2 separate regions of the Homo sapiens genome follow, and region 1 is linked to region 2. The links come from fine-mapping of genetic effects on gene expression. Tissue or cell type: coronary artery. Region 2 holds a variant in brackets; the other region holds the start of a gene. All regions are shown on one strand. Distances are between the middles of the regions.

The links. PIP is the estimated chance that this variant, and not a neighbour inherited with it, causes the effect.
Region 1: LSM4 starts here. The variant in region 2 is fine-mapped to the expression of LSM4 in coronary artery (GTEx, PIP above 0.99). The same link has a PIP of 0.9 or more in atrial appendage, blood mononuclear cells, left ventricle, uterus and whole blood.

Annotation. Positions count from the first base shown.
Region 1 is chr19:18,319,242-18,327,379 of GRCh38, reverse strand. It overlaps LSM4 (LSM4 homolog, U6 small nuclear RNA and mRNA degradation associated), which reads left to right and starts at 4,304. Exons shown (of 5, transcript NM_012321.5): 1 at 4,304-4,362. The coding sequence starts at 4,360. It overlaps LOC105372300 (a long non-coding RNA gene), which reads right to left. Exons shown (of 2, transcript XR_007067157.1): 2 at 5,383-5,646. RefSeq lists enhancers at 3,163-3,765, 3,964-4,183, 8,020-8,138 and a silencer at 4,244-4,423.
Region 2 is chr19:18,298,350-18,306,529 of GRCh38, reverse strand. LSM4 (LSM4 homolog, U6 small nuclear RNA and mRNA degradation associated) reads left to right here. Exons shown (of 5, transcript NM_012321.5): 5 at 1-294. Among named protein-coding and RNA genes, the nearest start is that of MIR3188, 20 kb to the right of the region's middle. RefSeq lists enhancers at 1,056-1,561, 1,452-1,831 and a cis regulatory region at 5,061-5,480. The variant C/T (reference allele first, on the strand shown) is at 4,141.

The sequences.
Region 1 (8,138 bases), 21 kb before region 2:
ACTGCGCCTGGCCTGGCTTCCTCTTATAAGGCTCCCTGGGCTTTCTCAGACCTCCAGAGTCCACTCCACCTGGATGTGGTGCCAGTCAGAAGGATCAGGGAATTGGGATTTCGAACTGCTGGGCTCAAACGATCATCCTGCCTCGGCCTCCTGAGTAGCTGGGACTACAGGCGTGCTCCGCCATGCCCAGCAGGAAAATCTTTGAGAAGTTGAACAAGGGTTCCCCAGTTCAGCTCTGAGAGGCATAGGGTCCTTTCAGCCAGAAGTTCCTCACCCTGGACTTGGTAAGAAAAGGCTCTCAGGGCAGTGCTGAGACTCAGGAGGCTGGGATACAAGGAGTCACTTTATGAGGTCCCCTATTGCTCATTTGTAGGCCTGAAAGTCAAGGCATGTGGCCAGGGGATGGAACCTTTGATTGGCACCTAGATAAGCCTCTTCTAGGAATTCAGGTTATAGTCCTGCTTGCAAGTGTATGTAACTATAGGCATGTCATTGGCCGGGCACAGTGGTTCACTCCTGCAATCCCAGCGCTTTGGGAGGCCGAGGCAGGTGGATCACCCGAGGTCAGGAGTTTGAGACCAGCCTGGCCAACATGGTGAAACCCCGTCTCTACTAAAAATACAAAAATTAGCTGTGTGTGGTGGTGCACACCTGTAATCCCAGCTACTTGGGAGGCTGAGGCAGGAGAATCGCTTGAACCCAGGAGGTGGAGGTTGCAGTGAGCCGAGATCGCGCCACTGTACTCCAGCCTGAGTGACAGAATGAGACTCTGTTTCAAAAAAAAAAAAAAAAAAAAACTATAGGCATGTCACTGTGGAGAAGTAAACTACTCAAATAAATGCCTATGTTTAAAGCTACCACAGCTGATACTTGATGTAATGAGTAGTAGCCCCTAAAAATATATATCCCAGCTGGGCATGGTGGCTCATGCCTATAATCCTGGCACTTTGGGAGGCCAAGGTGGGAGGATCTCTTGAGCCCAGGAGTTGGAGGCTAGCACGGTGAGGGCAGGGCAACAAGCAGACCCCCATCTCTACAAAATGAATAAATAAATAAATTAAATTAATAAATAAGCTGGGCGTGGCGGTGACACCTGTGTGCAGTCTCAGCTACTCAGAGGCTGAGATGGGAGGATCACTTGACCCCAGGAAGTTGCGGATGCAATAAGCCATATGGCACCACTATACTCCAACCTGGGCAAGAGGGACGCAGTCGTAAAAAAATTTACACACACACACACACACGTATATCCAAATCCTAACCTGCTGGTAGCTGTGAATGTGACTGTAATTGAAATAGGGTCTTTGCAACTTGATATACAGTGAGGTTCATTTGTTTGTTTCCATTTTTAGGGATTTCTTTTGATTTTTCCTTTTGACTTTTATTTTTAATTATGCTTCCAAAGTTGAAACTAGACAATAAGGTACACTGAAAGAAGTCTGGCTTTCATTCTTATGATTTCATCTTGTTCCCTTATTCTCCCAGGTTACTTTTTTTTTTTTTTTTTTTTTTTTGAGATGGAGTCTTGCTCTGTCACCCAGGCTGGAGTGCAATGGCATGCACTGTAACCTCCTCCTAACCGGGTTCAAGTGATTCTCCTGCCTCAGCCTTCTGAGTAGCTGGGACTACAGGCACGCGCCACCACGCCCAGATAATTTTTGTATTTTTATAGAGATGGGGTTTTACCATGTTGGCCAGGCTGGTCTCGAACTCATGACCTCAGGTGATCCACCTGCCTCAGCCTCCCAAAATGCTGGGATTAAAGTGTGAGACACCGTGCCTGGCCTATATTTTGGTTCATGCTTCTTTTGTTTGTTTGTTTTGAGACAGTGTGTTGCTCTGTCACCCAGGCTGGAGTGCAGAGGCAGGATCACAGCTTACTGCAACCTCTGCCTCCTAGGCTCAAGCAGTTCTCCCTGCTCAGCCTCCTGAGTAGCTGAGACTTCATGCACAGTCACCACACTTGGCTACTTGTTTGCATTTTTTGTAGATTCAGGGTTTTGCTGCTGTATTTCCCAGGCTGGTCTGGAACTCCTGGGCTCAAGTGGTCCAGCCACCTCAGCCTCTCAGAGTGCTGGGATTACAGGCATGGGCCACCGCTCCTGGCCTGGTTCGTACTTTTTACGTTTCTTTTTTTTTTTTTTTTTGAGACAGAGTCTCACTCTGTCGCCCAGGCTGCAGTGCAGTGGCACGTTCTCGGCTCACTGCAACCTCTACCTCCCGGGGTCAAGCAATTCTCCTGCCTCAGCCCCCAGAGTAGCTGGGATTACAGGTGCCCGCCACCATGCCCAGATAATTTTTTTGTATTTTTAGTAGAGATGGGGTTTCACCATATTGGCCAGGCTGGTCTCAAACTCCTGACCTCAGGTGATCTGCCCACCGCGGCCTCCCAAAGTGCTGCAATTACAGGCATGAGCCACTGAGCCTGGCCTTTATGTTTCTTATTAAAAATATAAGCAAATTTGGTTCACGTGCTTGGTGTGGTTAAAAAAAAAAAATATATATATATATATATATACACACACACATGCAAATATATATACACATACACATGCATGTATTTCTCTTTTTGCACACAAAAGAGGACATATTGTAAAAACTGTTCTCTACCTTGGTTTTTTTCACTTAAGATATCCAGACACCATTCAATGTCAGTATATGAAGATTGTCTTCATTCCTTTTTATAGCTGTATTACTCTATTATTTGGTCGCATTGGGTTTTTTTCAGTCTTTTGATATTATGAATAATGTCAATAAATAGCATCAGTCATTTAAAAACGAGGCTGGGCGTGGTGACTCATGCCTGTAATCCCAGCACTTTGGGAGGCCAAGGTGGAAGGATCACCTGAGGTCAGGAGTTCGAGGCCACCTCCTGGCCAACATGGCAAAACCCCGTCTCTGCTAAAAATACAAAAATTAGCTGGGCATTGTGGCATGTGCCTGTAATCCTAGCCACTCGGGTGGCTGAGGCAGAAGAATCCCTTGAACCCAGGAGGGAGGGGTTGCAGTGAGCTGAGATCGCACCACTGCACTGCAGCCTGGGTGATAGAATGAGACTCCATCTCAAAAAAAAAAGAACAGGGTCTTCGCAGATGTAATTAAGGATCTTGAGATGACATTATCCTGAAATTTATGGTGGACTTAATAAGAGAAAGGAGTGTCCTTTACAAGAAAAAGGAGCGGCCGGGCTCGGTGGCTCACGCCTGTAATCCCAGCACTTTGGGAGGCAGAGGAGGGAGGATTGCTTGACCCCAGGAGTTCGAGACCAGCCTGGACAACATAGGGAGACCCTGTCTCTACTACAAAAAAAAAAAAGAAAAAAAAAAGGAGAGATACATTTGAGACTCAGAGACACACAGAGAAGGCCAAGTGACGACAAAGGCAGAACGCGGAAGGCTGCATCTACAAGCCAAGAACTCCAAGGATTCCCAGCAGCCACCAGAACCCAGGAGAGAGGCATAGGACACACAGATTGTCCTCAGAGCCTCCAGAGGGAGCCAACTGTGCTGACAACCTCACTTCATTATTCTGATCTCTTGAATTGTGAGAAAATCACGTTCTGTTGTTTTAAACCTCGCAGTGTGTGGGCATTTGTTACAGCAGGCCCCAGAAAACTAATAGCATTCGCCTATTTACTTTGTTTACTGTCTGTCTCCCTGAGGGCCACGAATTTTGTGTTTTGTTCATTCTGTGAGCAGAAACAGGCACAGAGTAGGTAATAAGTACTTAATATGTGCCAGACGCTGTTTTAAGTGCTTTTACATGGTTTCATTCATTTCATCCTTACAGTAAGCAACGTTTTGGAGCAGACACTACTATTTACAGGGAGCAAACTGAGGCCCCGAGGGTCGTGGTCAGGATTCCAACCTATTAAATGATGTTCCCTGGATAATTACAGAATCAGAAAACTAGGAGTCGGAAGGGCAACATCAGGCACGGCCCAATCACCACGAAGCCTCGATTTCTCTCTCTCTACTGCAAACGAAAGGCATTAACTGGCTTTGCCCACAGCGTGGAGCCCAGGAGACCGACGAAGGTTTCACCTGCGCACGCATTTCCTCACAATGCACCCCGCGCCGGCGCGCGTTGCTCCGCCTCCTTTTGCATTACAAGCCGCGGCACTTTACGGCTCTCGTCCTCGTTCCTCCGGCGGGAACACGGCCCGCCCCGCCCTTTCGCCCAGCGGGCCCCGCCCTACTCCGCGTGGATTGGTTGACCGCCCTTCGAGCCCGGTGCTGACTGGCTTGCGTCTCTGCCACTTTCTTTCAGCTTAGTGGCGCGCGGCGCGGCGACGACCGCCGGGAGCGTGTGCAGCGGCGGCGGCGGAAGTGGCCGGCGAGCCCGGTCCCCGCCGGCACCATGGTGAGGGCAGGGCAACTGCGGGGTCTCACCGGGAGGCGGGAACAGCAGTCGTTGGGATCCCTGCGGGCGGGCGCTGTGGGCTTGGTTGGCGCGGGGCGAACGTAAGGTCCGAGCCTCGAGTCCCGCCCCCCGGCACGAGGCTGGGAAACTGAGGCCGGAGACTGCAGGTGGCTCTATCACGTTCGTGTCTGGGATTTAGGGTTGCACGGACTTGTATCCACAGTACAGTGGCCTCGCCTTAGTTAGTTTTCCCAGTTTGCAGGTGGGGAAACTGAAGTAAAAAAAAAAAAGGTGGGGATCCGCCAAATGCAGCAGAGAGTTTTTGGGCAGGGAAGGGGTCCCTTACGCTTCGGGCCCAGTCTGACCTCCCTGATTGAAAACTAGAGTGCTGGGAAGTAGGGGGCCAGTCTGAGTTGTGAAACTTAGTTTTAGGAATTTCAGAGCTTGCAAGATGCTAGCAGCACAGCCTCCTAGGCCTCTTGGTTTCTGGCTGAAAAGCAGGCCTGGTGCTGGGGTGTGGTGTTTCTCCTTGGGTCACATAGCATGTCATTCCAGCGGAAGGGGGCGTTTTGAGCTAGGGGTGGACAAAGTACATCCTCCCAATACAAAGAAGGAAAAATTGCGGCCCAGGTCTCTGCAGGGCCCATTGTTTATGATTCTGGAAGTTCTGGATCTGGGCTAGAAAGTGCCCGTGTCCCCCACTGTGCAGATCGGAAAAGGAATTCAGAGCTGGGAGTTTCCTGGCCCATCAGCTTCTGGTCCTTCTTTTTTCAATGAGAGAAACCAAGGCCCTTGTTGGGGATGTGACTTCCAGACTCTGTGAGACAGTGGGAGATTCAGTAACCAGGAGGGTCCCCCAGGGGTGGCTGCATCAGAACTGTGGATTAGTGAGAACTCTCCCTAAATCCGGCTGGTCAGTGTGTAACCACCCAATGGGTTCACCTTGCCTGTCTTCCTAGACAGATTTATCAAGACAGGGGAATTGCAGTGGAGAAAGAGTATTTCACACAGAGCCAGCTATGCAGGAGACCAGAGTTTTATTATTGCTCAAATCAGTCTCCGCTGAGCATTAGGGGATCCGAGTTTTGAAAGATAATTTGGCGGGTAGGGGCTCAGGAAGTGGGGAGTGCTGATTGGTTGGAGCTTCCTGAGGTCGATGGAGTCATCGACGGGAGTGTTGAAGTGAGGTTTTCTTGCTGTCTTCTGTTCCTGGGTGGGATCGCAGGACTGGTTGAGCCAGATTACTGGTCTGGGTAGTGTCAGCTGATCCGTCAAGTACGGGGTCTGCAAAATATCTCAAGCACTGATCTTAGATTTTATAATAGTGATGTTATCCCAAGGAGCAATTTGGGGAGTTTCAGACTCTTGCAGCCAGAGGCTGAAGTTACCTAAATGGTAATTTCTAATCTTGTAGCTTATTTGTTAGTCCTACAAAGGCAGACTGGTCCCCAGGCAAGAAGAGGGTCTTTTCGGGAAAGGGCTATTACCAATTTTGTTCCAGAGTCAAACTATAAACTAAATCCCTTCCCAAGGTTAGTTTGGCCTATACCTAGGAATAAGCAAAGATGGCGTAAAGGTTAGAAGCACAATGGAGTCGGTTAGGTCTGATCTCTTTTCACTGTCATAATTTCCCGCTACAATTTTTGCAAAGGCGATTTCAAGTGCAAGGATTCAGAGAGCCTGTCCCTCTCTGCGGTGTACTTAGAGGGCAGAGTTGGCATGTAAGACTGGGCAGAGCTGGAAGGATCCATCCCTGTGTTAAGTTTTGTGGGAGCAGGATCTTCGTTTTTCTTCCGACTAGATTCCCAGTATGTAGAACGGTGCGTGGGCAAAGTGTGAACTCATTCATTCAGCCCCTTCCCACCTTCTGAACATCCAGAGTCCTGGCTGTCCAGCTGTTTCCTGGAGGAGTAGCCGAGAATGGACAAGCCATCACAGGATACACACTTCCAGTTCCCTGTCGTCAGGGCAGGGCCAGAAGGAGTGGCCTAGGTTAGCAGCGGGGATGGGCAGTCCTGGACAGCTTCCTGAATTAGGAGGCACTGGGTTTAGGTCCTCGTGGATCTAGACCTGAGAACCAGATTCCAGATGCTCCAAGAAAGCCCAGAGAAAGGAATTCTCTTTTCTGAATTTTCTTGTGACCTTCCATAAACCAGGGTGGGGCCTCTCCTATCACACTTGGCACTTTTTTTCTTTTTCTATTTCATTTTATTTATTTTTTTGAGACAGAGTCTTGTTCTGTCGCCCAGGCTGAAGTGCAGTGGTGTAATCTCAGCTCACTGCAACCTCCACCTCTCCGAGAGTGATTCTCCTACCTCAGCCTCCCAAGTAGCTGTGATTACAGGCACGCACCACCACACCTGGATAATTTTTGTATTTTCAGTAGAGATCAGGTTTCACTATGTTGGCCAGGCTAGTCTTGAACCCCTGAGCTCAGGTGATCCACCCACCTCGGCCTCTCAAAGTGCTGGGATTACAGGCGTGAGCCACTGCACTCTAGACTTTTTTTGTTTTTCAGAGCTGAGATCTCACTCTCATCCAGGCTGGAGTGCAGTGGCACAATCACTACAGCCTCAACCTCACTGGCCCGTGATCCTCCCACCTGACCTCAGCCTCCCAAGTAGCTGGGACCACAGGCATGCATCACTAAACCTGGCTAATTTCTAGATTTTTTGTAGAGACAGAATCTTTTGTGTTGCCCAAGCTGGTCTCATACTCCTGGGCTCAAGCGATCCTCCCACCTCAGTCTCCCAAAGTGCTGTGATTGCAGGCACAAGCCACTGTGCCCAGCCTCACCTGGCACTTTGATGTATCTTCTTTTAAGATTTTGAGGATCCACCCCTTCCTCTGACCTCTCTCCAACAGAGTTTGGAGATGAGGATGTAGGAGAAATCAAGATATATGGTCACAGGCCCAGGCCATTGCAGCCTGGGAGGGCCTGGGAGTCAGGCAGCTCCCTGTCCCGCAGCCACTCCTTCCCTTACCTGTGGGGTGGGGCGAGTGTTCTGCCTTCCCTGCATGCCTCCCTGGGTAGTGTGTGCATTTTTCTTGTGTATTTATTCAGCAAATATTTACCGAGTCCCTCTCATGTGCCTGGCCTTGTGCTTGGCCCTGGACAAAGTCCACACCCACTTTGAGTGTTCCAGTCTAGCGAGGGACACAGGTAATAAACAAGGTAATTAAAGACTGGCTGCATCCTATGATGGAAACAAACACCCATGAGGCAGAGGGTGGCCATTAAAAGGGCCTGGCCAAAGGAGGTGACGTTTCAGCAGCCTGGGGAAGGTCACCCCAGGCAGAGGCAATAGCAGAAGCAAAGGTCAGGTGGCAGGAATGGGTGTGGCGGCCAGTGTGGCAGAGCCTGTCTGCCTTGACTCTATAGCGGGCCTGAGGAGTGTTGTGAGAGTGGGTCTGCACCAACCCTATTTGGGTTTTTTGTTGTTGTTGTTGTTGTTTTTGAGATGAAGTGTCACTGTCACCCAGGCTGGAGTGCAGTGGCACAATCTCAGCTCACTGCAGCCTCTGCCTCCTGGGTTCAAGCGATTCTTCTGCCTCAGCCTCCCAAGTAGCTGGGACTACAGGTGTGCGCCACCATGCTTGGCTAATTTTTGTATTTTTAGTAGAGATGGGGTTTCACCATATTGGCCAGGCTGGTCTCGAACTCCTGACCTCGTGATCCGCCCACCTTGGCCTCCCAAAGTGCTGGGATTACAGGCATGAGCCACGGCGCCTAGCCAGTCTTTCTTTTGTTTTGTTTTTTTGTTTTTTGTTTTTTT
Region 2 (8,180 bases):
CACAGAGAAGACAGGACAGGAATCCCCTCGGAAGATGCTCATGGAAGATTCTCACGAGGCTCCTGCCCCCTTTCTGAGCCAGGCCGGGTTTGCCACTCCTCGGGCGCGCACCTGAGACACTGAGTCAGCGCTTTCGAGAAAGGCTCCGGGTAGCATCTGTGGACCGTGAAGAAACCAGAGGGAAGCCCTGAGCCAGGCAGCGGCCCGTCCCCCTGCATAGCCTTCTCTTCAGGGTCCTCGTTCGGAGACCTATTTTGAGAGGTGATTGGAATAAAAGGTCCCGTCCGTGAGGAACTCTTTTTCTTGAGTCTTCAGAGTTACTTGCCATCGTATAGATTTTGCATTTACAATGTCCTCGCCTGGGATGTTCTCCTTGTGTGTGGGGTGGGGGACAGGGATGGATATCTGCAGTCGCCTGAATCCTCTCCGCCACAGCGGCACTTGATTGATGGTTAGAGATGGGGCATGTGGGGTCCAGGATGTGGCCTGCCCTGAACCTCACAAACCCGCCCCCTCAACACAGGCAGGGGCAGCAGTTGGGGGCCCGGGCCTGGAAGCCTTGGGATGCACCGGCCCACGGCACCCACCTGCCTGTTGGACAAGAGCATTTTTTTTTTTTTTTTGAGACGGAGTCTCGCTCTGTTGCCCAGGCTGGAGTGCAGTGGCACAATCTTGGCTCACTGCAACCTCTGCCTCGTGTGTTCAAGCGATTCTCTTGCCTTAGCCTCCTGAGTAGCTGGGATTACAGGTGTGCACCAACACAGACGGCTAATTTTTGTATTTTTAGTACAGACACAGTTCCACCATGTTGGCGAGGCTGGTCTTGAACTCCTGATCTCAAGTGATCCTCCCGCCTTGGCCTCCCAAAGTGCTGGGATTACAGGCATGAGCCACTGCGCCTGGTCGACAGGAGCATCTCTTGGCACACCCCATGCCCCTACAGTGTGGGCCGTGCAGGGGGCTGGGCTCACAGGGCGAGGTGGGTGGGGCAATGTTTAGAGGAGGAGGGAAGGAAGGGTGGGGAGCAGGGAGGCCCCATTTGCAGCTCCTGCCCCATGTCCTAGACTCACCGGCCCTTAGAGGCCTCTGGGGCTCTCCAAGGGGCCTGGGCTCCTTCCTCCCAGGGGTTGTGTGTGTCACGAGGCGTGGATCAAATCCAGGAGCTCTGGGGTCAGGCATCCTGGGAAGTTGGGATGGGAAAGCCCTCGAAGGCCCCTTCCCCTTCCTGATCTCCGTTTGGTTTTTTCTCCCTGACCAGGCTCTGAACTCAGAATGTGTTCCAACACCCCCTAGGTGCCTTCTCACCATTCAGGGTCCCAGGTGCTGGGGCTAATCCCCGGGCTCTTTTGCCTGCGTAATTGTGGCTTCTTGCCGGCGCAGCCAGACGCAGAGCCGGCTCTGACCTTTCCAGCCCGGCAGCTGCGGGCTCCTGGCCCGTGACTTGAGCCGCAGAGTCCCCTCGTCTGCCTCTGCCAACTTGGCCTTGTGGGCTAGAGTGGCCCCTGCTTAGGGGCAGCCAACTTCCAGAAGCTTCCGGCCCCCCTCCCTCGAGCTGGGTGTCGGACCAGCTCTGTGTTTCATTCTTCCTGGTTGGTTTCACAAAGCCTCATCCTCAGCCCCCTCAACAAGAAAAGAAACCAAAAGCACCAGTCTAGTTCCTAAATCCAAGGCTTCCAGGTCTTTCTGTCCCTCCGATGGTCTGTGCCCTCCTCACCCAACTGGGGCTGCCTTTATCGTAGATGGTCCCCACCCGCCCCCAGACCTTCTCGCCTGGAGTTTGCTTTCTGTTAGGGAGGCCCACGCCTGGCGCTGTGCTGTGACTCAGCCGGGGGCTGAGCTCTGCAGGGCCAGCCCACAGTCCCCCGCCAGAGTGCGACAGGCCCGGGTCGGCTGCTGACGCCACCTCATCCTGGAGCCAAACACCCGCTTCAGGGACAAAAGTGCAGAGGCTGGCCTTGGGCAGTGGCCCCCGAGAGGCAGCTGTGGGAAGCCATCCCTCTCTCCTCCTCCTCCTCCTCCTTCTCCTTCTCCTCCCCCATCCCCCTCCTCTCACTCCCCATCTTCCTCCCCATTCCCCTCCTCCTCCATCCTCCTCCACTCATCCCCCACTCCCATCCCCCATCCCCCTCCTCTCTCTCCTCCTCCTCTCCTCCTCTGGGCTTCACCTGCTGTTCCCAGCACTACTCTGACAGCCACCCCCAGATGGCCTGTGTCCCTGTCACCTCCCTCCCCACCTTCTTCTTTTGGAGCCCAGGGCCTGGCACGAGCCTGGCACTAGGGCCACTTGCCTTGTCCCAGGTGCTGGTGACACAGCCCCGGCAATCCTTCCCTTCCACAGGAGTGAGCCAGCCACAAGCATATGCATATCAAATGCATAAATGCTGTAAAAAGAAGAAACCAGGCCAGGCGCAGTGGCTCATGCCTGTAACCCCAGCACTTTGGGAGGCCGAAGTGGGCGGATCACCTGAGATAAGGAGTTCAAAACCTGGCCATCATGGTGAAACCCCATCTCTATTAAAAATACAAAAATTAGCCGGACGTGATGGCACAAACCTGTAATCCCAGCTACTCAGAAGGCTGAGGCAGGAGAATCGCTTGAACCTGGGAGGCGGAGGTTGCAGTGAGCTGAGATCGCGCCACTGCACTCCAGCCTGGGCGACAGATCGAGACTCTCAAAAAAAAGAAAAAGAAACCAGAAACAGGGCGGGCTCGTGAGGAGGTGAATGAAGAGGTGGTCAGGGAAGGTGAGAGAAGGACACTGAAGATTCAGGAAGGGCCTGAGAGACGAGGGAGCCAGCCACCTTGGGAAAGAACATTCTGGACCAGCAGGGGTCAGGAGGACAGTCCCGTGCAAAGGCCCTGTGCCCAGGGGACACAGGAGCAAACAGAAGGGCAGGAAATGGGGAGGATGTGGGCCCTGAGTGACATGAGAAGCAGCCACAGAGGGTTCTGGAACAGTCAGAAGCAGGGGTGGAAGCAGGAAGGGGGCAGTGCTGGGGCCTCAGGGCAGGGAGGAGGAGGCTGCCAGGGCCTAGGCTGACCAGCTGGCCTTGCCCAGGAAGTGCAGGACCCCGAGGTGGCACCTCCTTTCCACAGAGCAAGAGGAGGCCGGCTGGGTGCTGTGGCTCACAGCGGCAACTGTAATTCCAACACTTTGGGAGGTCGAGGCAGGCGGATCACCTGAGGCCAGGAGTTTGAGACCAGCCTGGCCAACGAGGTGAAACCTTATTTCTACTAAGAATACAAAAATTAGCCAGGTGTGGTGGCACGTGGTGCCTGTAATCCCAGCTACTCAGGAGGCTGAGGCAGGAGAATTGCTTAAACCCAGGAGGCAGAGGTTGCAGTGAGCCAAGATAGCGCCACTGCACTCCAGCCTGGGCGACAGAACGAGAGTCTGTCTCAAAAAAATGATACTACTAATAATAAATTAAAAATTTTTTAAAAATTTAAGAGGAGGTCCAGTCAAACCAAGTCTCGAGTGGACAAGAAGCTGCTGGCCACACAGAGAGAGCCGGAACAGGTGGAGGAACTGCAAGCACGGAGCCTCTGAACTTCTGTGGGGAAGGGGCAGAGGGGGTCAGGGCTCAGGCCAGAAGCCCCTACAGGGCCGGGCGCGGTGGCTCATGCCTGTAATCCCAGCACTTTGGGAAGGCAAGGCGGGTGGGCGCCTGTGGTCCCAGCTACTTGGGAGGCTGAGGCAGGAGAATGCCGCGAACCAGGGAGGCGGAGCTTGCAGTGATCGGAGATCACGCCACTGCACTCCAGCCTGGGCGACAGAGCAAGACTCCGTCTCAAAAGAAAAAATAAAATAAAATAAAATAAAAAAGAAGCCCCTACAGGAGCTGGGGTGGGCACTTGCAGGGATCTGTTCCTGACGCTTGGCATCAGCCACTTCTTTTTTTTTTTTTTTTTTTTGAGACAAAGTCTCACTCTGTCGCCCTGGCCGGAGGGCAGTGGCGCGATCTCCACTTACTGAAACCTCTGTCTCTCAGGTTCAAGCAATTCTCCTGCCTCAGCCTCCCGAATAGCTGGGATTACAGGCGTCCGCCACCACGCCCAGCTAATTTTTGCATTTTTTAGTAGAGACAGGATTTCGCCATGTTGGCTAGGCTGGTCTCGAACTCCTGACCTCGGGCAATC[C/T]GCCCGCCTCGGCCTCCCAAAGTGCTGGGATTACAGGCGTAAGCCATCTCGCCCGGCCAAGCATCAGCCTCTTCTCAAGGAGACTTCGAGTGAGGGCGAGGATTCCCCGAGCTCCCACTCAGCCTTGCCGCTCAGCCCCGTGGGTTTCCAAAGCCACTTCCAACCCAGCACCTCCGAGGGTCCTCACAGATGGAGAAATGAAGGCTCAGGACAGGCACACAATCCAAGCAACAGCCGATAATTGTTTTTTATTTTTTTTACAGATAGGGGTCTCACCATGTTGTCCAGGCTGGTCTCAAACTCCTAGGCTCAAACGATCCTCCCACCTTAGCCTCCCAAAGTGCTGGGATTACAGGCCTGAGCCAGTATGCTCAGCCAACCATTGTTTATCTATCATGAATGTGTGCCAGGCAGCTCCGGAACTCACCCATAGGGTGGCATCGTCATTCACTGCTCAGGCACAGAGAGGGTGAGGAACCTGCCCCAGGTCACACAGCAATGGTGACCTCCTCTTTCCACTGCCTCCTTAAACCTGAAGGATCCATTGACCTTCTCCCAGCTCAGGCACAGTCAGGACCCCAAAATTGGTTGGGAATAGGGTGTGGGGGGTAAGCAAGATCGGCTGCTGCTTTAAAACTCACTCCCCTGATTGTAACATCAGCTGAGGGACAGGATTTGAGGCACATAGTTAGGTGCCTGGAGGGCTTAACCCTACCGTGCCTCAGTTTCCTCCCTGGTCGGGGGGATAACAGCAGCTCTACCTCATGGGGGTTATTGGGCAGATTGCATGAAGGGAGGATGCCAGTAATCATTTTAGGACTGGCCTGGTATACAGCAAGTGCTCAATAAATGCTTGAAATAATCTAAGATGGCATCTCGCCTAGCACCTGTGGGGTGTCCAGAACCTCACGGGGGACCCTCCATCTTTACAACTATGGGGTTGGCGTGAGCAGCTCATTGTCCCAGGGCACCCAGGCAGTGGCCCCTCTGGATTGGCCAGTGCCATGGGGAATAGAAAGGCCGCTGTCCTCTGTGCCCTGGAGGCTGGCTTAGGAAGCCTGGCCCCAGGCCAGTGACCGTTCACCTTGCAGGCCTGCGATCCTGCCCTTCGAGCCGCCTCCCAGCCTGGGCCTGGCCTCTGCGGCCACTGGGCAGTGAGTGACTCACCCCTGCCCCGCCTCCACTGGAACCAGGCACCGAAATAGTCACCCAGCTCGCTCTCGGGAGTGGCCGTGGAAATATTTCAGGGCTGCATTCAGCACCTAAAAATACTCCTCACGTCCTCAAGTGTCTTCCCCACCCTCATCTCCCCTCCTCTGCACCACCAGGGCCAGACCCTCCTTGCCCCACCCCTCCAGCATCAAGTAACTCAGACATCCTGGCCCCAGAGCCTTCTCAAAGGTCAGCTTCTTCTGAAACCCCCTGAAATCTCAGACCAGGTTGGGGAGGCCGGGGCTCAGTGACATTGTCTGGGGAGACCTTCACTGCCCAGCAGTTTTCCTTAAACATTAAAAAAATGGCTGGGGGTGGTGGCTCACACCTGTAATCCCAGCACTTTGGGAGGCTGAGGCGGGCGGATCACGAGGTCAGGAGTTCAAGACCAGCCTGGCTAACACGGTGAAACCCAGTCTCTACTAAAAATACAGAAATTAGGCGGGCATGGTGGTGAGCGCCAGTAATCCCATCTACTCGGGAGGCTGAGGCAGGAGAATTGCTTTAACCTGGGAGGTGGGGGTTGCAGTGAGCCGAGATCATGCCACTGCACTCCAGCCTGGGTGACAGAGCAAGACTGTCTTGGGAAAAAAAATTAAAAATTAAAAAAATGGGCCAGGTGCAGTGGCTTATGCCTGTAATCCCAGCACTTTGGGAGGCTGAGGTGGGTGGACCACCTGAAGTCAGGAGTTTGACACCAGCCTGGGAAACATGGTGAAACCCCGTCTCTACTAAAAAATATAAAAATTGGCCGGGCGTGGTGGCTCACACCTGTAATCCCAGCACTTTGGGAGGCCGAGGCGGGCGGATCATGAAGTCAAGAGATGGAGACCATCCTGGCTAACATGGTGAAACCCCGTCTCTACTAAAAATACAAAAATTAGCCAGGCCTGGTGGCACACACCTGTAGTCCCAGCTACTCGGGAGGCTGAGGCAGAAGAATTGCTTGAACCCGGGAGGCAGAGGTTGCAATGAGCCGAGGTCACACCACTGCACTCCAGCCTGGCAACAGAGTGAGACTCTGTCTCAAAAAAACCAAAACAAACAAACAAAAAAATTAACCGGGTGTGGTGGCAGGCACCTGTAATCCCAGCTACTCAGGAGGCTGAGGCACGAGAATTGCTTTAACCCGGGAGGCAGAGGTTGCAGTGAGCTGAGATCTCGCCACTGCACTCCAGCCTGGGTAAGAAGAGCAAAACTTCATCTCAAAAAAAAAAAAATTAATTAGATTTAAAAATGGTTCTTGGCCGGGCACAGTAGCTCAAGCCTGTAATCCCAATACTTTGGGACGCCAAGGCGGGCGGATGGCTGGAGCCCAGGATCCCAGTCTGGGCAACATAGTGAGACCCTACCTCTACAAAACAAATGAAATTAGCCAAGCACGGCGGTACACACCTGTAGTCCCAGCTGCTGAGGAGGCTGAAGGGGGAGGATCACTTGAGTAGGGAGGTTGAGGCTACAGTGAGCCATGATTGCGCCACTGCACTCCAGCCTGGGTGACAAAGCAAGACCCCCCCCCCACCAAAAAAAAAAAGTTCTTGCCGTTTGCATTGTTGAGGCAGCCAGAAGCAGGCCCTTTTGACAGAGCCCCCAGCTGGTCTGAATTCCACCTCCTCACCCTCCCACTGGCTTCGAGACCCCACTTAACTTATAGGGTCCTCTCCCTCCCAGGGTGGGAGAGGGGTGTGCACTGTGCCCTCCAAGATACCCTCACACCCTGCTGTCATCTCAGGCTGTCAGCCTCCCTGGTCATATTCAACGGCCTCTGTGGCCCCAAGGTGCGGTCAACTTTGTCCTAACCACCAAGCACCTTGACCTTTCTGGTGGCCTAAGGAAGGTGGGGATAACAGAGCACACAGAACTGTACCTCGGTTCCACCTGCTGGGGTGGAATCCAGCGTTTCTCGATCACCTGAGGCTTCCAATTAGAGAGAATGGCAGGTGTCAAGGCACTGAAGAAAGTGTGTGCTGGGTGTGTTGAAAAGGCAGTCAGCTGGCTGGCGAGCAAAGTGAGGGCGAGGGAGCAGGGCACAGTGGCTCACGCCTGTAATCTCAGCACTTTGAGAGGCCGAGGCAGGCGGATCACCTGAGGTCAGGAGTTCGAGTCCAGCCTGGCCACAACATGGCGAAACCCCGTCTCTACTAAAAATACAAAAATTAGCCGGGCGTGGCTGTGTATGCCTGTAGTCCAAGCTACTTGGGAGGCTGAGGCAGTAGAATCACTTGAACCCAGGAAGCAGAGGTTGCAGTCAGCCGAGATCATGGCACTGCACACTAGCCTGAGTGACAACGTGAAACTCCATCTCAAAAAAAAACAAAAAGCAAGGGTAAGGGTACCGGGCAAGGGCTGGCACACTGTAGATGTGAGGGCCTCCCTGGCCCTCTGTTTTCCCTTAGAGAGGATGAGTCAACCTAGAGACACCTTCAGAGAACCAACCTCCCTGAACCACTTAAGAAGCAGTTTTGTTTTGTTTGTAATGACTAAATTCCCTACTTTATTCAGATTTCCTTCGTTTTTACCTAATGTACTGTACTTAACAAAAAAAACTGAGGTGGTTGGGTGCGGTGGCTCACGCCTATAATCCCAGCACTTTGGGAGGCCGAGGCCGGCGGATCACCTGCAGTCAGGAGTTCGAGACCAGACCAGCCTGACCAACATGGAGAAACCCCGTCTCTATTAAAAATACAAAATTAGCCAGGTGTGGTGGCACATACCTGTAATCTCAGCTACTCAGGAGTCTGAGGAAGAAGAATTGCTTGAACCCAGGAGGCAGAGGTTGCAGTGAGCGGAGATCGCACGATTGCACTCCAGCCTGGGCAAAAAGAGTG